Linked DNA regions of Homo sapiens. The protein of the gene in region 1 purifies or fractionates together with the protein of each later gene. This does not show direct contact. Each region holds a gene or a part of one and is shown on either strand. Other genes may lie near its edges. The genes, in order: VRK1, SMARCA1, PCF11, EXOSC7, CPVL, HADHA and DPYSL5.

The links.
Region 2: the proteins of VRK1 (region 1) and SMARCA1 purify together in Homo sapiens (affinity purification with mass spectrometry; one large-scale study listed by BioGRID and IntAct). This does not show direct contact.
Region 3: the proteins of VRK1 (region 1) and PCF11 purify together in Homo sapiens (affinity purification with mass spectrometry, with the first as the bait; one large-scale study listed by BioGRID). This does not show direct contact.
Region 4: the proteins of VRK1 (region 1) and EXOSC7 purify together in Homo sapiens (affinity purification with mass spectrometry, with the first as the bait; one large-scale study listed by BioGRID). This does not show direct contact.
Region 5: the proteins of VRK1 (region 1) and CPVL purify together in Homo sapiens (affinity purification with mass spectrometry; one large-scale study listed by BioGRID and IntAct). This does not show direct contact.
Region 6: the proteins of VRK1 (region 1) and HADHA purify together in Homo sapiens (affinity purification with mass spectrometry, with the first as the bait; one large-scale study listed by BioGRID). This does not show direct contact.
Region 7: the proteins of VRK1 (region 1) and DPYSL5 purify together in Homo sapiens (affinity purification with mass spectrometry, with the first as the bait; one large-scale study listed by BioGRID). This does not show direct contact.

Annotation. Positions count from the first base shown.
Region 1 is NC_000014.9:96,803,882-96,807,381, reverse strand, and holds part of VRK1 (serine/threonine-protein kinase VRK1), read right to left. Parts: intron 1,070-3,500; exon of another isoform or gene 1-1,069. UniProt on the Homo sapiens protein: Serine/threonine kinase involved in the regulation of key cellular processes including the cell cycle, nuclear condensation, transcription regulation, and DNA damage response.
Region 2 is NC_000023.11:129,488,991-129,492,490, reverse strand, and holds part of SMARCA1 (SWI/SNF-related matrix-associated actin-dependent regulator of chromatin subfamily A member 1), read left to right. Parts: intron 1-397; coding exon 398-550; intron 551-2,298; coding exon 2,299-2,431; intron 2,432-3,405; coding exon 3,406-3,500.
Region 3 is NC_000011.10:83,155,665-83,159,930, forward strand, and holds the start of PCF11 (pre-mRNA cleavage complex 2 protein Pcf11), read left to right. Parts: upstream 1-1,466; 5' UTR 1,467-1,775; coding exon 1,776-1,967; intron 1,968-4,266. UniProt on the Homo sapiens protein: Component of pre-mRNA cleavage complex II, which promotes transcription termination by RNA polymerase II.
Region 4 is NC_000003.12:45,007,244-45,009,607, forward strand, and holds part of EXOSC7 (exosome complex component RRP42), read left to right. Parts: intron 1-176; coding exon 177-332; intron 333-2,364. UniProt on the Homo sapiens protein: Non-catalytic component of the RNA exosome complex which has 3'->5' exoribonuclease activity and participates in a multitude of cellular RNA processing and degradation events.
Region 5 is NC_000007.14:29,136,538-29,140,037, forward strand, and holds part of CPVL (probable serine carboxypeptidase CPVL isoform b precursor), read right to left. Parts: intron 1-3,500. UniProt on the Homo sapiens protein: May be involved in the digestion of phagocytosed particles in the lysosome, participation in an inflammatory protease cascade, and trimming of peptides for antigen presentation.
Region 6 is NC_000002.12:26,231,133-26,234,632, reverse strand, and holds part of HADHA (trifunctional enzyme subunit alpha, mitochondrial precursor), read left to right. Parts: intron 1-277; coding exon 278-416; intron 417-2,353; coding exon 2,354-2,473; intron 2,474-3,500. UniProt on the Homo sapiens protein: Mitochondrial trifunctional enzyme catalyzes the last three of the four reactions of the mitochondrial beta-oxidation pathway.
Region 7 is NC_000002.12:26,931,632-26,935,131, forward strand, and holds part of DPYSL5 (dihydropyrimidinase-related protein 5), read left to right. Parts: intron 1-8; coding exon 9-53; intron 54-1,626; coding exon 1,627-1,702; intron 1,703-2,946; coding exon 2,947-3,103; intron 3,104-3,500. UniProt on the Homo sapiens protein: Involved in the negative regulation of dendrite outgrowth.

The DNA.
Region 1 (3,500 bases):
TTCAAATCAAAAAGACTGAGAATACTTGATGACTATTTTCACATATTTGAAAGGATGTTACGTGGAAGAGGGATTCAGCCTGTTCCACATTTCTCCAAAAGGCAGAAGTGAGTAGAAGAAATTAAGTAGACTTCCACTCAATGTAAGAAAGAATTTTCTAATGGTCAAAACTTTAATAAAAATAGGATAGGCTGTCTCTAGAGCAGTGGTTCTCAACCAGAGATGATTTTGTCTCTGTAGCCAGAGATGCCACTAAACATCCCACAGTGCAGAGAACAAACAGTGACCCATGTAAAATGTCAACAGTCCCATGGTTGAGAAATTCTGCCCTAGAGATAGTGAGTTCTCTGTCGTTGGAGGCATTTCATCATAGACCAGACCATGTGATGATGTCACAAGAATGGTGGGCCAGGAATGGTGGCTTGTCATTCCAGCTACTCAGGAGGAGGATCATTTGCTCCCAGGAAATCAAGGTGGCAGTGAGCTATGATCGCACCACTGCACTCCAGCCTGGTTGACAGAGCGAGAGGAAGGGAAGGAGGGAAGGAAGGGAGGGAGGGAGGGAGGGGAATGATGGGAAGTGAGAGTGAATTGAAAAAAGTTTTGTTTCAGATACCTCTCCAGAGAAAAATACCTTCAGGTATATCAAAGTGAAAATGATGATGATGACAAACATTTATTGAACACTTACTGTGGGCCAGACATTACACCAAATGACTCATGTATACAGTTTGCAGTTAATTCAACAACTCTAAGATAGGTATTATTTTACCTTGATTTGATGCTAAATTGAATTGCTCTAATGTCACACAGCAGTCAATATTTGAACTAGATCTACCTGACCCAATTTTATATGTCACTGTCCAAAGCATAAACATCAAATGACTTTCAAAGCTTTCACACTCTGGAAAAGAAATGAACAAGCACATATTCCACAAGTATCAGGACAATGTCTGAACAGGTTTGTACTCACTGTAAACCTAGCTGGCTAGGAGAAAGAGGAAAGGATTATTTGAAGTAGTCCTGTGATGAAGAAGAGAACAATTATCCTGATTGTCCCCAATTGCCTACTTCTGTAAGAGCCAAGAAGCTCTTATATACCCATGGAGGATGGGATTAATGATGACATCCTTTTATCCATAGGCGTGAAAGCTCAGAATGGACAGACGTTTGAACATCCCCGACTGGGAATCCTGCCCTTAACAAATACACTAGATGCAGATACATGGTTTCTTGGCTGCCTATACTCACGCCCATCTGTCAGGATGGCAGTATGCCTGCTCACATGTTGGTCAAACTGTCACTAGGGCATAGGTGCCAAGCAATGATAGTTTTAAATGGGCAGCTTGCATAGCACTATAAGAGCTTGCTCTTCTGCAGAAAAAAAAAAAAAAAAAGAAAAATTCTCTGTGATAATACTGAAGGGCTGCAAATCACAAGTGAAATATTCTTGGTCAATCTCAACATTTCAGTGGAAAAAAAGATCTAGACAAGTAGAAAAGAATCAGAATAAGGAAGTTAAATCAAACAGAACAGGTACTTTAAAAACATGTGAGATGTTGCATGAAAGCTTTTAACACTGCCCTTCTTTCATTAACATGTGTCAATGGTAACCTCTTACACTGTAAAATCCTTGCCTCAACAAGTCATCACTGATTTTTTTCTTAATGGAATGATACATTTTTCCATGTTCTAAATAGGAACAGAAATGCATTGATTTCTAGTAGTTCGACACTATACAGGTTCTATTTGTTGACTGATTATTTTTAAAATGACTTAAGTCTAATCTACAGCCATGATAATCTTTTAAATGCACAAAAGAAAGCAGAAACCAAAGAGATCCCCACAGATAAACGGCAGGGGAGGGGAAGAGTATAATTTGCATGGAGAAAGAAACTAACAACTGAAGTAGGCACTAACAAAATGGAAAGTGAGTACTTTTGCTCATGAATTTAATAGGACTCGAGGGCAAAAACATAGATCTGTTATCTTTCACATCCCCCTGACTACAAGCAAAATGTTCCTATACTACATCTAGGTTTCTAGTGTATCCTTTAATATCTCACATGAAATATATAATGTCTTTACTGTCCGGAAATTCTTCCCTAAGACCAAAACCTTAAAGCTGCAATTTGAGCCATTTGTTCTTATGCAGTCCTCAGGATTTTGAAGAACAGCTGGTCATCATCATTCTCTGTATAGTTCTTCACATACAAGTATCAGGACATACTGATTAAATAACCCCTGAGTCTCCTCTTTGCCATGATAAATAAATCTGATCCCATTAACTTTTCCTCATTGGACCGATTTATGAACTCTTCATGTTTTTATCATTTCAGTTGCTCAACGCTTGGACTCTTTTCAGGCCTGGTAAGAAATGTCACCCACATCAACAATGAGCCAACGGAAACTACTCTTTTTCCCAAATGTACAACTTAATAACAGTAGCATAAATACGAAACAGTTTGGAAGTCCTGCTGACTTCTCCATATCCATCACTGAGGACAGCAGCAAAAGTTTGAAATCTACCACTGCCTTCTAGAAAATACTAGGAATTTATAACATTCTGAAGTAACACCACTTTTTTAGCTTTCTGGCAGATATTTGTAAAACAAAGTTGTAAGTCAAGGGTCATGATTATATCCTGTTCTTCCTACCAACGTATCACTGCCACAAATGGTCCTAAAACAACTTCTCTTTAATACCATTTCTATCATACCATTTTCCTGATTAAGAATATACAGCACCTTCCTAATAGCCAATGAAACTGATTACAAATGCTTCAATCTAGCCAGAAGTTTATATACTCTTTCTTTTTCACGAACCAATGATCCTTCCTTTACTTCTCTACTTCCCTTCACTTGCATGACTCCCAAAAATAGCCAGTTCTTACTTATTTTCTCTAGAACAGATCTTTGCCCATGTTATTCTCTAAAATGTTTTCCCACTTTTTCCAGACTCCAGCCATGTTATACCTTCAATAAACCTGTATTTATTAATAGTTAATTGCTCATTCATTTCTTCCTGTCTTTGTTTTGATACCTAATTTACAGTATATGGCCAACTGATTTTTGATTTTTAAAACTTATTGAATGGAGAAAGGGTAGACTTTTCAACAAATGGTTTTGGAACAACTGGACATCCATGGACAAAAGGAAAAGAAAAATGTACCAAGATCTAAAGCTCACATCCTGTGCAAAAATGAAACCAAAAAGGATCACGGATCTAAATGTAAGACATATAAGGGTAAAACAGAAGAAAAAATGAGAACAACCTCCTGACCTAGAGTTAGGCAGAGAGTTCTAAGATAGGCACTAAAAACACGATCCATATATTGAGAAGTTGGACTTTAACAAAATTTGAAACTTTTTTGCTGCTAAAGACACTGTTAAGAGAATGAAAAGACAAGCCAGAGACTGAGAGAATATATTTACAAATCATATATTTGGCAAAGGATTTTGTATACACAACATATAAAGAATGCTCTAAAATCAGTAAGA
Region 2 (3,500 bases), on another chromosome or scaffold:
TCTGATATTTTACCTCCTAGATATATTTCAGCTCTCACTCAAAACGTTTTCATTATTATTGTTTTTAAATAATGTAAATGAATTATTACTTGCTTAGTTAAATTTGTGTATGTAATTGTTCTAAATTTGTATCTATCGATGTAAGCTTTTAAAGATTAGGAACTTCATTTATATAATATACTTTCTACAGAAATTCACACAGTACAGTATATGTATAGATGCTTACATATTTTTGAAGATGGAAGAATATTATAAAGTATATTTATAAGGAATATTATAAAGTGTGTGAAGATTTTCTATATGTATTTTAAATGTTTTTATTTGTTTCTTAAGGACCCTGATGGTCTAATTTTATTTTTCTCTTTTTCTTCTATCCCTTTATCAATAAAAAATAAAGGAAGCAATAGAGGCTTTTAATGCTCCTAATAGTAGCAAATTCATCTTTATGCTAAGTACCAGGGCTGGAGGTCTCGGAATTAACCTGGCAAGTGCTGATGTGGTTATACTATATGATTCAGACTGGAACCCACAGGTTGATCTACAAGCTATGGTTAGTAATCTTTAATGGTGTCAGAAATTTATCATAGCTCTGAATACTATTGCTATTTACACACATAAAGGTCATTTATGATAAAAAGGTAACAATTTTTGAGAGATTTTATAGAAGTTACAGTAGATTATCCTGGAAAACACAGTTGCTATGCTAATTGCAAAAACAAAAGAAATGAAAGCGAACAACAAACACACCCCAGATCCAACTTATAGCATTTATGTGTTGATTTTGGTTTTTTTCATGAAATAGAAATGTCAGTTTTTTCCCATTCCTACAGATTGAAGAGGACACATAAATTTGTTTTAATGAAAAGGATTAAAAAACAATCTCTTGTTATTATTCTGTTCAACAACTAAATATATTAAAATCCTTAGTACTGAAATTAAGAGAGGTAGGATTTTAACTTTCATAAAAAACAATTTGGGAGAGAAGGCAAAAAGGTAAGAAAGGAATATATTCCAGAAAAACACTTGCTACTTAATAATGATACCATGCAAAAGCTATTCTACACTTAAAAACATTTTTTTTTAGGGAGCAAAGTTTCTCTGACCTTTCATCATGACACTACAGGTAACCCCTTTGATATTTTGGTGTCATTTATTGAACTAGAGCTACAACTTCTCTCAATGTGACTCACATTTTCAGATAAAGAAATATAATTTAGAAGTAAAAAGATGCAAAATAACTTCTTAGGTTTTGAATATATAGCTATGGATAAGTGTCTTTTTGGGAGCAATGAAAAGTCATATGCCAATGAGGTATAACTTAGAAGGCTTTCCTTTTATAATAGAGAATTGAAAGGGATTGACCACTGGGACATTCCAAAATCAATATGCTTTGGCGTAATTATTATTGCATTACGATGGTATTGAACTACCTGTTTGATATGACTAACTAGGAGTAAGCCCCAGTAAGTTACAGTGTTACTGAACTGGAAAATCTAATAGTGATAGCACTTCATTTCCGTAGAAGTCTTAGTGTGCATCCCATCTTTCAGGATTTGCTGGTTCAGGTTTAATGTAAATATGTGCAGGGGATTGCATTCTGTTTGAAAAATGTGCTGTGTTGAAACTTTGTTACTAGGCTCTAGTGTTTTTATATTTAGTACAAGGCCTGTTTTGAACTTACATTTTTTTTTTCTCTACCACCCTCCTCCCTTTACCTATTTGCTCTAGCAGCTTCTGTGTTTTAAAAATACTCTCCCTAGATGGTTTTATACCACTAGAAGTTCGCCACCTGTCACCTGTACCAACTATAAACCATAGGACCAGTCCTAGGCTACTGAATAGTAAGGATAGTAATATCCCATTAATTTTTATAACTCTTTACTGCATATCCCTCAGTAAGCAGAAAGAAGTGCCTGATGATGAAATAAAGCAGACTTTTGCCACCATAGCAACCCTAACTACTTAATAAAATTCCTTGCTAGTTTCGAAGATGTTTATATTTAGTGGCTTAAAGTTACTTAGTAACTCAATCCAGAAACTTTCAGCTCCCTCTTTTATTCATCTTACAGGTGCTTTGCCCTTTGTCCTGGAAGTTTCCCATTAATGGTACAATATAATATTTGCAGATTTCTTTGTTCCCAGTGGTCTTTAGATATTCTCAATATTCATCATGCTCTTTTCCAAAGTGTCAGATCTAGAGAAAAATAACTAATTTTATTTTTAGAATTTTATAGCATATGATGGCTCTAAATTTTATCCAGAATATCCAATATCTTACATTAGAACTCTTTCTACTAGGATCGAGCACATCGTATTGGTCAGAAGAAACCAGTACGTGTATTCCGTCTCATCACTGACAACACTGTTGAAGAGAGGATTGTAGAAAGAGCTGAGATAAAACTGAGACTCGATTCAATTGTTATACAACAAGGTATTTATACATAGAAACTTAATTAGGTGTTTTTTGTAAAACACATGTAGTTTTCTTCAAAGGAGATTACTTTTAATAAAAGTTGACCAAAATTTGAAAACTTAGAGGAAAAATTGAAACATCACTGTGTATCCCATGAGTCTGTACAATTGTTATGTATCACCTAAAAATAAAAGGAAAAAATTTAAAAATGCTAATTGAGGCTGGGTGAGGTAGGTCATGCCTGTAATCCCAGCACTTTGGGAGGCCGAGGCGGGTGGATCACCTGAGATCAGGAGTTTGAGACCAGCCTGGCCAACATGGTGAATCCCTGTCTCTACTAAAAATACAAAAAATTAGCCGGGTGTGGTGGCGTGCACCAGTAGTCCCAGCTACTCAGGAGGCTGAGGCAGGAGAATTGCTTGAACCTGGGAGGTGGAGGTTGCAGTGAGCCGAGATCGCGCCACTGCACTCCGCCTTGGGCGACAGAGCAAGACACTGTCTCAAAAACAAACAAACAAACAAACAAACGAACAAAAAATGCTAATTGAAATCTTCTGAATTGAAACCCTGGCATTTGATATATGGAGTAGTTGAACATCACTAGCTTATTCTTGAATGTCAGTAGCATGCTTTTTGAAGTACCTGAGATTATTTAGCAGATAAAATGGCTACTTTTAAATTTTTGAAAACATATTAGAGGGTACCTTTTCATATAGAGAAGTTTGATCTGAAAACAGAGTTTGAACATGAAAAAAAGTTTCTGTCCTTCTGGGTTTTAACTGAGTTTTACAGAAGGGAATTTATATAGAAATAGAAAGTATGCTAGAAGAAAAACTTGTAGGGTTTATTAAACAAATAACCTTAATGCTCACTAATTTTTTGTTCTTTAAAGCTTTATGTGTGGTTAAATGTGATAATGTCTGATTAGAATGATTATGCCTTCTTTGGAATATGATTGATTGAATATGTACAATTTCAATTTTTATCATTAGGAAGACTCATTGACCAACAGTCTAACAAGCTGGCAAAAGAGGAAATGTTACAAATGATACGGCATGGAGCCACCCATGTTTTTGCTTCTAAAGAG
Region 3 (4,266 bases), on another chromosome or scaffold:
CATGCCCGGCTAAGTTTATTTTTTAAGAGCAATTTCTTCTGGGGAGCAACAAATTATCTCTCAAATGCCTAGTAGCCTACGGAAGGCAATGGAAAAGCAATTTTAGGTAATTGACACTTTTTTTTTTTTGAGACAGACTCTCGCTGTCACCAGCCTGGAGTACAGTGGCGTGATCTCGGCTCACTGCAACCTCCACCTCCCGGGTTCAAGCGGTTCTCCTGCCTCTGCCTCCCGAGTAGCTGGGACTACTATAGGCGCACGCCACCACGCCCAGCTAATTTTTGTATTTTTAGTAGAGACGGGGTTTCACCATGTTGGCCAGGGTGGTCTCGATCTCTTGATCTCGTGATCCGCCCGCCTCGGCCTCCCAAAGTGCTGGGATTACAGGCGTGAGCCACCGCGCCCAGCCCGTAATTGACACATTTTAAAAGCTTATATTTAGGTCAATATCGCTACTCAATGAAAAAATTACGTTTGGTTTGTGTTATGTCGCAGCTCCACGGTGAACTATTTGAAAGCTTTGTGTGTTTTACGAGCATCATTTCCAACCTGGGAAGACAGCCCCACAAGTTTAAAACAAAAGTGCATGCGCGTGTGTGTTTTCCTACGTGCCCCAAATAGTGTATGCTAAGGAGGTTCTGAAATGCAGATTCACAGTGGAGATATTACGGTCCAGCTGGGTGTGGCTGTTGTGAAAAACTCTTCCTAGAGCTCATAGTGGGCTCCTTAAAGAGCTCCTCCAAACCCCCAAGGAAAAAGCCTTTCACACTTAATCTCTAAATAAAAGGCATTTTCCTGGGGATTCAAGTCAGGCAAGCTCGCCTAGGTATTTTTGTGGGTGTGGGAAGCGGCGTGCTGGAAGAAACTCTCCAGCAGTGCTTTCCGAAGTTCCGGGTAAATTGGGCACCTCCCTCCCACTTCCCAGTTCCCAGAGGGGCAGCTGGACCCGCCCTGGCTCTCCAGAGCACCTGAGACGCTAAGGGAGAGGGGGTGCGGCGGCAGAAAGCCTCCGCTCCCTCCAACCCCCGCTCCCTCCAACCCCCACCGTCGGTAGCAGCTACGGGGCAGGCGGGAGGAAAGATGATTGACAGGCCCGCTCAGTGGCTGGGAAGCTAGAGGGAGGGACGAAGAGGGGACGGCTGAGTCTTCTTCTCAAAGTGGTTGGGTTGGGCCGCGGGAACTGCCTTCCCAGGCCTATTGGCTTCCCTGAATGGGTTGTTATGGTAACAAATGACCGAACAGTCCCTTATGAATCGGCCAATGAGAAGGGCCGTCTTTTCCAGTGCGCCTCCGAGCAGTAGATGTTGCGAAAGTCCGGGTAGAGGCCGGAGAAGAAGGCGGTGCCAGGGCGTCCTGCGGAAGGGCCGGGGGCGGGGCTCGTGACGTTGCCGGGACAGCCAATCACGCCTGGTTTTATCAGTGGCCCCGCCCTTTTACCGCACATTTCCCCTCCCCTAGTTCATTTCGCACGACGCAGCGGTTGGGAACACAGACATTTTCGGAGCTGGAGCCGCCACTGCCGCCGCCATTTTGTGTCTGTGGAGAAAGAAGCTTCTGTGGCGGCTGGAAGTGGACGGAGATCACCCGCGAGACGGCGGCGTTTCATACCCGAGGTTCCCCCTGTGTCGTCCCCCATCCCCCCTCCGCGGTCAGCATGTGGTGAAGCCGGAGCCGCGAGAGAGCCGGGGAGAGGAAGAGGAGTCGGAAGGGAGGCGGGGTATCCAGAGCGGCTTCAGCTTCAGCTGCAGCGGACCTCGGAGGGGGGCCGCGGCGCAATGTCAGAGCAGACGCCGGCCGAGGCCGGTGCTGCGGGGGCCCGGGAGGACGCCTGTCGGGATTATCAGTCATCGCTCGAAGACCTGACCTTCAATAGCAAGCCGCACATCAATATGCTGACCATTCTAGCCGAGGAGAACCTGCCCTTCGCCAAGGAGATCGTCTCTCTCATCGAGGCCCAAACCGCCAAGGTTTTTATACACCCCGCAGCCTCCTATTACTTCTAATACTCCCTGATTTTAGTGTCAGCCTCATCCCAGGTCTCGCTTCCATCCCAAGGGGGACAGTGTTCCTTCTCTCCAACCCCCCCACCCCCCTCCAACTCAGGCTCGGTCTTTGGCCCAGGCTTCGAGCATGGGCCTCTGGGGGGGAGGGAGTGGGGAGGATAAAGGGTGGAGTCCCACTTCCGCTTTCCAACTCCCTTTTTAGGCCACCGCATTGTATATCCCGACACACACACGCTTTGAATAGAGCCCTTTGGGGTGGGGGAGACTTAAAGGCAGTTTGTGGTTTGGGGAAGTAAGAGTTAACATAAGCCATTTTAATTCCCTGGGAAGTGGGAGAGTGGGTCTCCCATTTTCCCCAAGCACCCTTTTTGGTAATTGTGTTCTGTGGGTTGGAAGGAGGTGAAGGGGGACCTGGGAGCGAGCTGTTGGTGGGTGGGAATAGGGATTTGGCCCCGAGTGGAGCAGCCGCCTGTTAGGAGCCCAACATGGCGCCTGAAAAGCACATGATGCGAAAGGGAAGAGAGGAGAATCCATTCCCTGCCAGCCAGGCAGCTGCTCACTCCCGTCAGCCCCATTTTGGGGTGGGGGCGGCTAGATAAAACTTTTATTCTCCTATTGGAGGGTCTAATTTGTCCCAAAATAGGGGCAAGTGGGGTTGAGGGTGGGGTTTGGGTGGGGGGAGGAGATCTTATCCAACCTGTAGGTGGAGAACTGGCCCAGAGGGTAACAAGTACTTGCAGTTTCTCTGAAAAGTTCAGTCCCTCCTCCTCTTCCTTTTCTCTTTTTCTCCCTTCCCTGATAGCGAAGGAGTGTTTTTCTTTACCCCTTGACAGAAGTGGTCCTCTGCCACCTTATATTTCCCTGTAGTCCTCCTCTTCTGTGGATTCATATGGGAGCGATATGTCATTTAAGTAAAGTTACTGTTCAACTTAGTTACAATGAGTTTTAATAGCGTCCCAGTGCTACATTTTATTTTTCAAGCTTGTACTCACGGTTTAGTTTTTTCTAGTTGTTAGTGATTGCAATTATCAGGATGAGCCTCCTTTTAGCAGAGTGAACCCCTTTTTAAAGGCCACTTTAACAACAACCACCAATATATTGTTTAGAGACGGTTTCTGTCTAGTGTAAAACTTGAGTGGTCTGACTCTAATAAATGGTTTTGAAATGTGTGACTGGTATTATAAAATTTGTGAATAAAACATATAAAATATGTATTTGTCTTTTTTATTTACCTTTGTAAGGTGTAGAATCTGTTTCCAAGACTTATTTTTATCTACGTGGTTGTGTGTTTTAAACAAAAGTCTTTAAGTGACTTGGGTTCATTCTTCTTTAGGTTCCATCCACTCTTTTGGGTAAACCTCTTCACAAGATACACGGTTTCAGGTGGTCCTTTCATAATTTAAAGAGGACGAAAAGGAAGGGTTTTTTTTCTTTTTCCTTTTAAGGACCTCAACAAGTTTATCATGCTCAGTCTGACAGCTAAGATACAAGTTTTCGTTCACTTTTTCCTGTGAAAGTGTATGTAAAACAGCTTTTTTTTTTAAGTGTGAGATTTAAAAAGGAAGCATTCGTCATACTCAACATGCTTTTTATTGATACCACAAACATCTTGGACATGAAAACTTAGTTTTTGCCTTGTTGAAGGCTTAACTTGACATTAAATGCCTTAAAGCACTTGTGTTTTTAAGGCAAAAACATTGATTTTTAAAATCTAATTACCTCGTATCTTGGGATTTAATATTCCACAGCGCCTAATATTTAGCAGCTCAGGTTGTCACTCAAAGAACCTTGCTGGTTTTTAATGGATCCGGAAGACCTTCGAGAACCGAAAACTAAATGCTGAATATAGTGACCACATAAAACTTGTGTTTGTATATCGCTACACAGTGATGAAAATAGATGAGCTCTTTGCTGGTAAAAGACAGCTGAAATTTTGGGGGCACACGTTTCCTGGTTATTTTTGTAAAGCCAGGTTGAGGAAAAGATGTAAAAGTCACTTTGGGGGATCTATCTTAATCTGGGTTGGGATCGAGGGTGAGGGGAGGGATTTCCGTTATTTGGTAGCAAACTGGCCTGGTTTTGTGTTTTGGAGGTGAATGTTTGTGTCCTTATTCTTTAGCTTCTCTGCGTTACTAAACTTAAAGGATTCACACTTAATTTGACTCCTCCCAAGAGAGAGCAGTAGCGAAAAATAATACATAAAAGGACTTCACTTGTACAATAAAAAATTAGCCTACTTAACAGACTTTGGTGTTTAAGAGAG
Region 4 (2,364 bases), on another chromosome or scaffold:
GAGAATTGTTGAACAATCCCTCAGCTGTTTTCCTCGTGAGCAGAATCTAAAATAAGACCTGGAATGACCAGTGCAAATACTTTTGCCTGGTGTAGAGATTCCCACCACGAGGCCATCAGGGGTGGGACTCTGGGGCCTGCGTGACCCACCGTGTGCCACGCACCCTGCCTTTGCAGATTGGCTATCGGCATGTGGTGGATGCTACTCTTCAGGAGGAGGCCTGCTCGCTGGCCAGCTTGCTGGTGTCGGTGACCAGCAAGGGAGTTGTGACGTGCATGAGGAAAGTGGGGAAGGGCAGCCTGGACCCAGAGAGCATCTTCGAGATGATGGAGGTGAGGCCTTAGTTCTGAGGAAGGTGCAGGGACCTGGCCGGGGTGCCTGCTGCTTCCTGCTCCCTTGGTCATACCGTGGGGATTCTCCCCATTCACAGCCTTGACCCCAAACTTGGAGATTTGGGAACAGCTGGTTTGAGCCAGGGGTCTGCTGACCTAATCAAGGGGGGTTGTGGGGGTGGATACTCTGGACTGGGAGGTAAGGAGCCTACCAGTAACCATTAATTGTCCTCAGTAAGTACCCCCCATCTCATTTCTATGTGTCTAAATAAGACTGTTGGACTTTCATAATGTAAAGAGCCACTCGTAACTCCAAAAGTGCAGGCCTTTGTGACTTGATGAGGGAATAGAATTCTTGGCTCACTGCTTCCTGTCCCTAGAAGTGGGTGAGTAAAGGTGGAAGCACGGGCTGAACTGTGGCTGTCTCCCAAATTCGTTACAGCTCTAGAAGTGTTTAAATGGAGACAAGCAGGGATGGTAAGAAATCTGACCCACTGGAGTTGGGTTGGGTTGCCCTCATCCCTAGCAGAGCCATCAAGGCGCTTCTACAGTTCTCTGTACTGTTTGCCCCACATGTCTGTCACCTCACTGGCCTGGAAGCCCCGCAGGGCAGGGACAGGGTCCTGCTCACCTGTTTCCCAGACCTTCTTTCCCCTATATCCACCTCACCTTTCTGACTGATTGACTGACTGAACTTCCAGGAACAGAGTTAGCAGGATCTGATTATTCATACTTTCTTGCAACCTCTATATCACCACACATGCCCAGAGATCATTGCTTAATAGCAAGCACTCTTCTTTTGTGTTTAGAAACAATGACTTCATACTGAAGAATCCAAGAACATGACATCTACTTTCTCTCTTTATCATGTTATTTAAAAGGCCAAAATGAGCACTGTATATAGCATGGAGTTCCCAACCATGGGCTGTGAGGGTGTACTGCCCTGGCTGCAAACCTGGCTCTGGGCCATAGTCCCCCTCATCTGCAAAGTGGGACTGATAATAGTAATATCTGCCCAGACACTGCTGAGGTTGTTATTAGGATGATGTGAGGTGTAGAGGAGAAGCACATGTCACAGTGCCTGATATGTCATCAGTTCTCAGCTAATGGCAGCTCTTATTCTCTGTGCTCCATGAAGCACCCTGAGTTCAAATTTCTCCAGACTTAATGCTGCATAAATTCTACCAAAGTCCTCTAGGCAAGGGACTGTCAAACCTTGTTTTAGAAGGTACTCTTCCCCCTCCCAGGAGAGTTTATGAGAATTTCTTTAAACAGCAACAACAAGCACAGTAAACAAATAGCTGGAGTTTATTGTGTGCGTACTATGTGCCAGATACTGTTTTCACTGCTTTAAATATATCATTTAGTCCTCAACAACCTGTGAGGTAACTATTATTATTGTCCTCATTTTTACAGATGAGGAAACTGAGGCACACAGAGGATAAGCAGCTTGCCTACAGGCCTCCCTGCTCATAAATACTGGAGCTAGGATTTAAGCCAAGACTGTGTGCGTCCAGAGCCCCTGCTCCCAGCCACTGTGCAATGTCAGCCTTATAAACCAGATCTGCCCTGGCTGTCATAGATGGCAGAACCAGAGCTCTGTTCAGTGAGCTGAGCTTTGTCCTCCCCTCAGGTTTGGGGAGTGAGGTCTGCTAACTCTGGACAGGGGACTATAGCTCTGTGGCCCTGTCTTACTGTTTATCTCACACAGGGATGCAGCAATCTGGAAAATGACTTGGTGGAGCTGAGAGCCTTGGGGGTAGTTGTGCAGGCTGCCACCCCTAGCCTCTGCAGTTGCTTTCCTGCATCTGGATTCAGAGGCGTCAAGGCCCTCTCAAGTCCTGGCATCCTGTCCATCTCATCTCCTCTTGTTGTCCTCTCTCCCCACCCTCATGTATATGAATAATCAGTACCCCTGTTTGACAGATTCAGACTTTTTTTTCTTTTTCTAATGTTATGGGAAAATCTTTCCAAAGGCCCTTTTTTTTTTTGAGATGGAGTCTCACACTATCGCCCAGGCTGGAGTGCAGTG
Region 5 (3,500 bases), on another chromosome or scaffold:
AGGTGTAACCCTAAAACCAATAAATCAAGAAACAGATTAGGCAGATTACTTGGAAATTTGGAATTAAAGGCTAGAACAGACAGGTAAAAGTATGAGAGGAGGTCTCAGAGATAAGAGAAGGATGGGGAGGTGGGGAGAAGAAGACTAAAATTTTTTATCATGAGAATTATAACATTACTTTTATTATATTGACAAAAATCAAAAGTAGTTAAGAAGAACTCAAAAACTAAACTTATTATCTCCTTCCCTAAACTTGTCCTTACTTCCCTATTTTTCATCTTGGTTGGAAATACTCCCATCAACTCAAGTACTAAAGCCAGAAATCCAGGATGTATTCTTTATTTATCCATTTTTCTCTGGCCCTGCATTCCCACAGCCAATCAATCACCAACTGAATCTCCTAGATGTTCTTCAAATTCACCTTCACCTCTCTAAATCTACTCTCATGGCCTAATCCAGTTCTTTATTGTGACTTGCCTGGACTACTGCAAACCTCCAAACTAGTTTCCAACCTTGACTTTAACTCCTAATTAAATGAATCCCTCTATACTTCCCTCATGTGCTGCTGTCTCTCCTATTGAGGTGGCATCACTGTCTGGGGTAAATACCTGGGGTTCGCCATCTCATGCCAAGATTAAGGACATGGACACGCACAAGGAGTGAGTTTAGGAGCAGAGGTTTAGTAGGCAAAAGAAAGAGAAAGGAGAACACTTCTCTCTCTTGCAAGAGAGGGGCATCTGAATGGGAAATCTGGCCCTCCGTGGAGTGCACCAGATTTTATAGACAGGCTTGAGGAGGTGGTGTCTGATTTATATAGACAAAGATTGGCCCACAGATTGGCTGGACCAGGTGTGACATTTACATAGCATGCAGGGAAGCTGGCCACCTCACCCTAACCTTATTAAGCAAATGGGCTTTCCACTTGGCCAGCATTACTGTCTGTTCCCTACTGTACACATGGTTGGAAAGGAAAAGGGAAGACGGAGCTGCCATTTTGAACATGCCTAGCCCAGGTAGCCTTTTCCTATTGGCACAACTGCCGGCATTCACCTGTGCAAGCTTCCAGCTTACTTGTCTATGTGTGTAGCTCAATTTTATAGGCAGGCTGCTCTTTGTTAGAAAAGAAAATGATTTGGGGTCTGCTTTTCATTAAAAGGAAAACCTTACCGAGGACTCCTGTACTCTCACTATCTGCCCAAATAATTTCTTCTTAACGCCTATATCACTATTTTGGGAGGTCATAGAATTTATAGCATTTAAAAATTTGTTATGCAGCAATAGATAACCAATACAGAGGCAGGAGAAAAGCATAAGTAGGAAGTGGAGAAATAGGATGGAATCTAGAGAAGTCAGTAGAGAGCTGATCAGGGAGAGTTTTCTAGATATGCTAAGAATCTTTATCCTCTAGTGACTAGGAACTACTGAAGGGCTTGATAATTTGAAAAGAGTACTATGAACATCAATGTAAGGATGGACTTAAGCCAGAAAGACAGCAGGCAGGAAGGCCAGTTAATATGTTTCACAATAATCTAGAATAAAGATGACAGGAGTTTGAACTAGGGCTGGAAACTAGTAATAATAGCGTGGAGAGGGCAGACTTAAAAATAATTAGAAGGTTGACTGGGAGCAGTGGCTCACGCCTGTAATCCCAGCACTTTGGGAGGCCAAGGTGGGTAAGATCACCAGAGGTCAGGAGTTCCAGACCAGCCTGGCCAACATGACAAAACCCTGTCTCTACAAAAAAATACAAAAATTAGCCAGGCTTGGTGGTATGTGCCTGTAATCCCAGCTATTCAGGAGGCTGAGGTGGGAGGATCACTTGAACACCGGAGGCAGAGGTTGCAGTGATCCAAGACCACGCTGCTGCACTCCAGCCTGGGCAAAAGAGCGAGACTACGTCTCCAAATAATAATAATAAGAAGAAGAAGAAGAAAGTAAAACTGGAAGAAACTTGTGATTATATATTAGAGTTGAAATAGAACAAAGAATCTAGGATGATCCCAGATGTGACTTAGATGGCTGGGTGGGTGGACAGTGGTGCCATTAACCGAGAAAGAGAGAGACCCAGATCCCTGGGAGTGAAAATCAGCTCTGCTGCTAATCAGTCTAAGATGCTCCCAACAGAACATTAACAATGTTTCTATATACCCAAGGCCACTCTGCAGCTGCAGTATGATGGACAGTCCTTTTTTCTGAGCAACTGCTGTATTCTTACCAATGATAGCGCTTTGTCCCTCCCATCTCCTGAACAGAGACTGCTGAGAGTCTAAGTTCCTGAGCTGCCACGGGCACTTGGCAGCAGCTAATCCAGCGGGTACCTCTTCCCTGATCCCTCCTTCGACTCATTCAGCACAAGGCCAAATATTTCAGAGGCCTCTTCCCACTTCTCCCAACCTTTGGGTATGTGTCCTCCTTTGCTGGACATAATGCTAACACACCTAACTTTGTGTCATTACACATGTATTTCTCATATTCTCTGCTGAGTGGGTTTCAACTTCCATCCCACTTGAAAGGTGTGCTGAGAAAAGGTAGAAGGAGACTAAAAAATAGGGAGAAAAGAGACAATAAAGCCAGACCGTAGAGGATGGCTGCGGGCTCCCTATAGTACATTACATTCTAAGACGAGCAGGAAAGGCTCTGCCACAATTCCTGAATGTACAAGGTCAAAAGTTCCAGCCTTCACTTTGCCAACAGGTATATCCTTGGGCAAGCCAATTCACTTCTCCCCTTGGACTTCAGTTCCTTCATTTGTAAATTCTGGAGATTAGATGGACTATATAATTCCCAAAATCCCTTTCAGCTTGGAATGTCTAAGATTCTAAAAATGCAGCCAAGGAGATCAGGCTAAAACTGCTTCAGGCTTTGAGTCACAGGGATGATTCACGCAGGCTACCTTAATGAAAGAACTTCCACATCTGCTCTAGGTGCCCTGAACCTACACATTTCTGTCAGTGTTCGTAAGACAACCTAAGAAACCTAAGAAAGGCTATTCTTGGGGGGGCAGGGGGGCTACAACACTGATTAAATTACATGTTTTTTAAGCACAGATTTTTTAAAAATCCTATTAAAATTCTAAATCAGTGGCTTCCAGCAATTTTTCTCTGAAACAGACGTCTCGGATTTTGCAGACACCAATGTTCAGGCACACGTGTACACAAGAATGGTGGAAAGAGTCATGGTTTTACATGGAGTGTGCAGTCTGCCAGCTCAGAAATCTCCTGTGTCCCAACGGCACAGGCGGTTCATTCTCCTGCCAGCCAAGTTAATTCTACCAACATGCCAATAGTTAGAAGGGGAGAAAACAAAACAAAACAAATTATTTCCACTTGACTTGCTGATTGCTAATAATATTCTTCATCAAGTAACCCAGGCAGGAACACTTTTCATCTTCAGAATTAGCTATGGCTGCCATTTCCCCTTTTGTCAAATACAGGGAGATATTTCCCACGGTCTGCACATGACTCAGAATGGCTTCATCTTTATTTCACGTTCTACATTTC
Region 6 (3,500 bases), on another chromosome or scaffold:
CACTATGCCCAGCTAATTTTTTGTATTTTTAGTAGAGACGGGGTTTCACCGTGTTAGCCGGGATGGTCTCATGGATCCAGAAGTTTAACACTCTTTATGGAGAAATGATGTTGCTGCTATTGTGCTATTTGAAGCAAAATCATTCTTAACCTTCTATTTGAAGATTTGTCATCAAATATTGATGCATGATAGGATAAGTGTATAGTGAATAAGTATTGAACCAAATAAATTATAGTTTTATCTTTTTCTCTGTTCTCTACTTTTATGGATAATGCAGCATGTTAGCCGCTTGCAAGACCCTTCAAGAAGTAACACAGCTATCACAAGAAGCACAGAGAATAGTTGAGAAACTTGAAAAGTCCACAAAGCCTATTGTGGCTGCCATCAATGGATCCTGCCTGGGAGGAGGACTTGAGGTATAGATATTCTAAAGTTATTGAGACACTGTCCAACTCATTGGTGGCATTCATCAGCTGTAAACCCTTAGGCTACTGCTTTGCCTGGAAAAAGTTTCTGGAGGAGAATCCGCTTTGTTTTTTGTTTTTTGCTTTGAGACGGAATTTTGCTCTTGTCTCCCAGGCTGGAGAGCAATGGCACGATCTTGGCTCACTGCAACCTCTGCCTCCTGGCTTCAAACAATTCTCCTGCTTCAGCCTCCCCAGTAGCTGGGATTACAGGTGTGCATCACCATGCCCAGCTAATTTTTGTATTTTTAGTAGAGATGGGGTTTCACCATGTTGGCCAGGCTGGTCTCAAACTCCTGACCTCAGGTGATCCTCCCGCCTCGGCCTCCCAAAGTGCTGGGATTACAGGTGTGAGCCACTGTGCCTAAATAGCTTTGTTTTTAGTTATCAAACTTCTGGATAGGTGTTAATCCTTAATCCACATGACACAGAGCAAGTGGCACAAAGCAAGTAAATGAAGGTGTGATGTTTTCATTTGAACTGCATCTCTAATGTCCTTTTCAGCTGTAAAAATCTTGTTCAAGTTTGCAGGGCAAAGATTCAGAAGTGTGATCTAGGCTCTTAAGCTACTTAAGTCTGGTTGAGACACATAAAGCATAATATAAGTGCTTTGTCAGTAGTAAAGACGGTAAATAATAGAAGATTTGAGAGAAGAGATGCTTACTAGACCCGAACATGTAGGAAAGAAAAGAAGGGGAAAAGGAAACATTCATTGAGCACTTTTCACATGCTGAACTCTGTGCCAGACACTTTCACATATGCAGTCATTTACCACATAACGTTTCAATGACCAATTGCACATACAGCAGTGGTTCTATAAGACTGTAACACTACATTTTTCTATACCTTTTCTGTGTTTAGATACAGAAATGCTTATCACTGTGCCACAGTTGCCTACAGTATTCAATAGTCACATGCAGTCCAGGTTTGTAGCCCCTTAGGACAGGGGTCCCCAGTTCCCAGGCCATAGCCTGTTAGGAACTGGGCCCCACAGCAGGAGGTGAGCAGTGGGCGAGTGAACATTACCACCTGAGTTCCGCCTCCTGTCATATCAACAGTGGCATTAGATTCTCATAAGAGCTGGAACCCTGTTGTGAACTGCACATGAGAGGGATCCAGGTTGCGCACTCCATTGGCCTCTATTGCCTGATGATTTGAAGTGGAACAGTTTCATCCTGAAACCACTCCCTCCCACCCCACCCCCAGTTCTTGGAAAAATTGCCTTTCACAAAACCTGTCCCTGGCGTCAAAAAGGTTGGGGACTGCTGGACTAGGAGCAATAGGCTATCCCATATAGCCTAGATGTGTAGCAGGCTCTGCCATCTGGGTTTGTGTAAGTACACTCTGCGATGTTCACACAACAACAAAATTTCCTAATGGTACATTTCTCAGAACATATCCCCCTCATTATGTGACACATGACTATATTAATTAAGAAAACCTGTGCCTGGTCCTAAACTATAAGCAGAATTTGATTAACCAGAATATGGAGGGAAAAACAATTCCGCATATGGTATGGTGTGAGCAAAGGCAAAAGCAAAGCCAACTAGGACACTGTAAGTAGACGTGCTTGATTGGAGAGTCCGGGGCTTTTTAACCTGGGGTCCATATAAAATTGTGTGTGCATTTTTCTCTTGAGAGCTTCTCTAGCTTTCAGTAGATTTTTTAGGAGATCTACGGCCCAAAAAGAGGTTAGTAAATTAGAGGAAAAGTATGAAAAAAAGGCTAAAAAGGTAAATTCTAGAAATTATTAAATGCCAGCCTAAGGAATTTCAGTTTATTCTGTGAGCACATTCCTGCTTTATAAATAATCTTTAGACCCTTATCCATCTCAAGTTGCTACTAAGTTACATTTTCTAACATTCTAATTTTCTTTCATTTGTTCAAAGGTTGCCATTTCATGCCAATACAGAATAGCAACAAAAGACAGAAAAACAGTATTAGGTACCCCTGAAGTTTTGCTGGGGGCCTTACCAGGAGCAGGAGGCACACAAAGGCTGCCCAAAATGGTGAGTCTAACATCCCCTTTGTGAAGCTATATGCCCTCTTTAGATCTGTTTTCTTGTATAAAATGCATAATATGGGCATTCATTGTAGAATTAAAAAACCAAATAAAATATGAGTGTACAGGATCAGTGACAGACTTTATTCCTGGTACTTATTTTTTCAATTCCACAGATTTTTTTTTTTTTTTTTTTTTGAGACAAAATCTTGCTCTGTAGCCCAGGCTAGAGTGCAGTGGTGTGATCTCAGCTCACTGCAACCTTCTCCTCCCAGGTTCAAGCGATTCTCCTGCCTCAGCCTCCCCAGTAGCTGGAATTACAGGCGTGCACCACTGCACCCAGCTAATTTTTTATATTTTTTAGTAGAGATGGAGTTTCGCCATGTTGGCCAGGCTGGTCTTGAACTCCCGACCTCAGGTAATCCTCCCGCCTCAGCCTCCCAAAGTGCTAGGACTACAGGCATGAACCACCATGCCTGGCCTAATTCCACAGAATTATTGATCAAGGTCCTTTGTTAGTCTCTGAGGAAGGATAAAGATAACTAAGATGCATGTCTTGCATTTCTGGAGCTTATGGTTTAATTGGTTCCTTTTCCACATAATACCATCTTAACAGTTTTTCAAAACCATGAGTCATATTAATATTTCATTACAAATATAAGAGGCAGACCTTTTCCCTCATTGTCTGATTTGGATGTTCTCACTGCTGTGTTGTATGGAACCAAAAGAGGCTCAGCAGGCTTTGAATTCCAAGGAGAAGGGAAGGACAGTCAGACCTGGATGCTGCAGAGCAATCTTAATGTCAACTCAAGGGCCCACTGAACCTTATAGCTTCTGGCACTGTAGATTCCTCAGTGAAAACAAGGCTCAACAGAAATACTCTTTGCAGGGAAGTTGATCTCAATTGAGCACAAAAGAAAACAAGGTTTATGGTGTTAATTTTCTAATAATAATAATGTGCTTTCCTTCATAGGAATGTCATAAGGATTTATTGAAAGAATGAATATGCATATATGTGTATCAAAAATATTTGC
Region 7 (3,500 bases), on another chromosome or scaffold:
TCTAACAGCTGGAAGCTGAAGCCACTCATCGTGTTATCACCATTGCAAACAGGGTAAGTCCCCCGATGTCCACTGTGGGATTAGAAACCAACCTTGGCCAGGCACGGTGCTGATGTCTGTAATCCCAGCACTTTGGGAGGCCGAGGTGCGTGGATCACCTGAGGTTAAGAGTTTGAGACCAGCCTGGCCAACATGGTGAAACCCCATTGCTACTAAAAATACAAAAATTAGCTGGGCGTGGTGGCGTGCACCTGTAATCCCAGCTACTCAGGAGGCTGAGGCAGGAGAATTGCTTGAACCCAGGAGGCGGAGGTTGCAGTGAGCCAAGATCGTGCCAACTGCAATCTGTCCTGGGTGACTGAGCGAGACTCTGTCAAAAAAAAAAAAAAAAAAAGAAAGAAAAGAAAAGAAAGAAAGGAAAGAAAGAAAGAAAGAAAGAAAGAAAGAAAGAAAAGAAAAAAGAAAGAGAAAGAAAGAAAAGAAAAAAGAAAGAGAAAGAAAGAAAGAGAAAGAAAGAAAGAAAGAAAGAAAGAAAGAAAGAAAGAAAGAAAGAAAGAAAGAAAGAAAGAAAGAAAGAAAAGAAAGAAAGAAAGAAAGAAAGAAAACCAACCTCTACGATGCAGCCCCATTCTGCTCTGGGTGCCAGCACCATGTCTTGCCCACAGGAACCCAGAGCTGTTTGCTGACTGAGCGCTGTCATGCCCACCATCCTTGCATTCACCCTTCTCACCACCAGCTTTCCATTCCACCCCGCCGAGCCTGCTGAAGCTCAGTTCATTGCTCACGTGTAAACTCAGTCCAGCTCCTAAACTCTACATCCTCCTAATGTGATAAGCAAAGAGAACAGAATAACATCTGGGGAAACAGAATTTCCCAATTGCACTTTAGAGCTCTGGCCGCTGGACAAGGACATTGTTTCACTGTCATGACAATAGTTATTTATCAATTACTTCCTGGTGGAACTTAACCCAGAATAAGGAAAGACCCAAACAACAAAAAGTCAGTTCCTTGCCTTTTAGCTCAAGCATATGCTCAGAGGAGTTAAGCCATGGACCGTGGTTGCACAGCTTAGTAGAGAAAAAGCTAACCAGTATTACAGTCCAGGTGTCCGTTCGCAAGGTCAGCCTTCTCTTGCCTAGACTCTGAACCCTAACCCCCTTGTATTTTGTTCATCTCCAGGGTGCATTCTGTCTACTGATAAGCAGCCTTCAGACAGCAGGCATCGTAATTTTAGATACAGAATACACGACTAACTCTAGGTCATCACGTTTATGAACAGGAAATTAAAATAGGAAAAAGAGTTCCCCCCTTTTAAATTACAGTCATGGTTGTCAGATGGGAGAAAATGCGAGGTTCAGACTTGACGGTCTTGAACTTCACAGGCTGGGCTTCCCGGTGGGCTCTGGTGCTGGAGGCTGTTCTCTGCCTCCCCGTATCATGCAGTTCCTGCAACCTTGCCCTGACTGCCAGCCCTGCATTCTCCGCTTAAGGACTGTCACCTTGAGGGTGGGGTTGAGTGACGCAGGGGGAGGCGCTGGTGCCAGGGCTGACTTTGCCAGGGTTATTCTGATGCTTGTGAAGTTTATGGGTCAACCCTCCCTACTTCCCACTGTTTCTTGTGTTTAGACTCACTGTCCAATCTACCTGGTCAACGTGTCCAGTATCTCGGCTGGTGACGTTATCGCAGCTGCTAAGATGCAAGGTGAGTCCATAGACTTGGCTGGACAGAGCAGGTCAAGTGGAGGGACTGGAGATGGATGGGGCCCATTAGCCGTGCTCACTCCTGGCCCCGGCTCCTGAAACCAGGACCTGAGCCAGCCCTTCCCTTTCATCTGCCACCGTCTTCCTCAGAGCTGCCCTGTGCTATGCTGGCTTTAGTCTGCTAGAACATGAGCTTTTTCTTCTGCAAATTTGTATGCATAACAGCTTTACGGAAGTGTCTGTCACTTCTCCTGGGTCTGGTAACATTTTCCAAGTTTTAAACCCACTCATTAATTAGTGTCTTTTTGGCCTCATAGATTTTACTAGCAGTTGCCTTGGCAACTAACATAAAATGCTGGACCAGTTTCAGTGGGCATTTCAGGGGCTGTTTGGGAAGTCCCTAAAGAAAGAACAGTGTGTGGGCCCAGCTTCCTTTTAGCCTCCTGGAACCCTGTGTATGAGTCCGAGGGGCACTTGTATGGCTTCTGTTGCGGATCGCCTGGCAGTACCTAAAGGCTTGCAGATGCTTGGAGTCCAGCCCCGCCCCAGGTGCTGGTGAGGGCCTGGCAGCAGGAGAAACAAAGTCACAGTCACAAGCCTGGGGAGACAGATCAGAAGCAAGGGCATCTCAGCCTTCAACTATAATCGATCAGAAGCAAGGGCATCCTGGCCTTCAACTCTATCGCCCTCTAGATCCCGCCACCTGCCTCTCCCCTCACTGAAGCCCCTTGGAGGGTCTCGCCTAGACTGTCGTCCCAGCCTGGTGACTGCTCCCACCTCCTGTCTCCCTGTCCTCCAGCCCTGCTACGGCCCTCCCTGTCCTACCACAACCGTTCTCTTGAAGCTGCTCACAGCAACTGCCTGTCCAGAAAACAGTCTAGACTGCTCTTTAGCGTGGCATTCGTGGCCCTGCATGCCTGTTCACCCACCGTCAAGCTCCATCTGCCAACAGCACCCTGCACACACCAGTGCTCTGGTCATCTGGCCAAACCAGACTCCTCAAAGTGCCGCTTGGTCCTGCTGGGCCTCGGTGCCCATGTCCCTCTGTCCTCCTTGCCTAAGTCAGCAGAATAGGGAGGCTCTCTGGGCTTGAACCCAGCTGTGCTCTTAAAAGCCCTGTGAGCTTGGGCAGGTCCCTTCCTGTCTCTGACCTCAGCTCCTTCACCTGTAAAATGAGAGGCACACACCAGCGATCGCTCAGGTTCGGTGGCTTCCTGGTTATGGTTCTGACCTTTCTTCTTCCAGGGAAGGTTGTGCTGGCGGAGACCACCACTGCACATGCCACGCTGACAGGCTTACACTACTACCACCAGGACTGGTCCCACGCGGCTGCCTATGTCACGGTGCCTCCCCTGAGACTGGACACCAACACCTCAACCTACCTCATGAGCCTGCTGGCCAAGTAAGGCGTTTCAGCAGCACATTGCAGGGATGTGTACATCTTTAGGAAGACGTCATAGAGGGCCCAGGAAACAAATCTGAGCTAGGTTTGATTTCATTGTGCCCATAGGATCATTGTGCTTTTCTTACCTTCTCTGAGCCCATCAGATAATTGCCATCCTATTGGGATTTTATGACCGCTTGATATGGAGTGAGATCTTCTGAAGTATAAGAGTGAAGAGCACATATAGAACTGTGAACCGTGGTTATTCGGAATTTCAAAGGACATTGATCTCTTACTCTAAAGCCCAGTGGGGAGCTGCAGAACGTGGCCTGTGACTTATCCTAGAATGTAGGGGTCCTTTCTGTTTCTTTTGTTCACCTCTCCCTCTTCTTGTTGGCTCCCGTGTGCCCCTTGT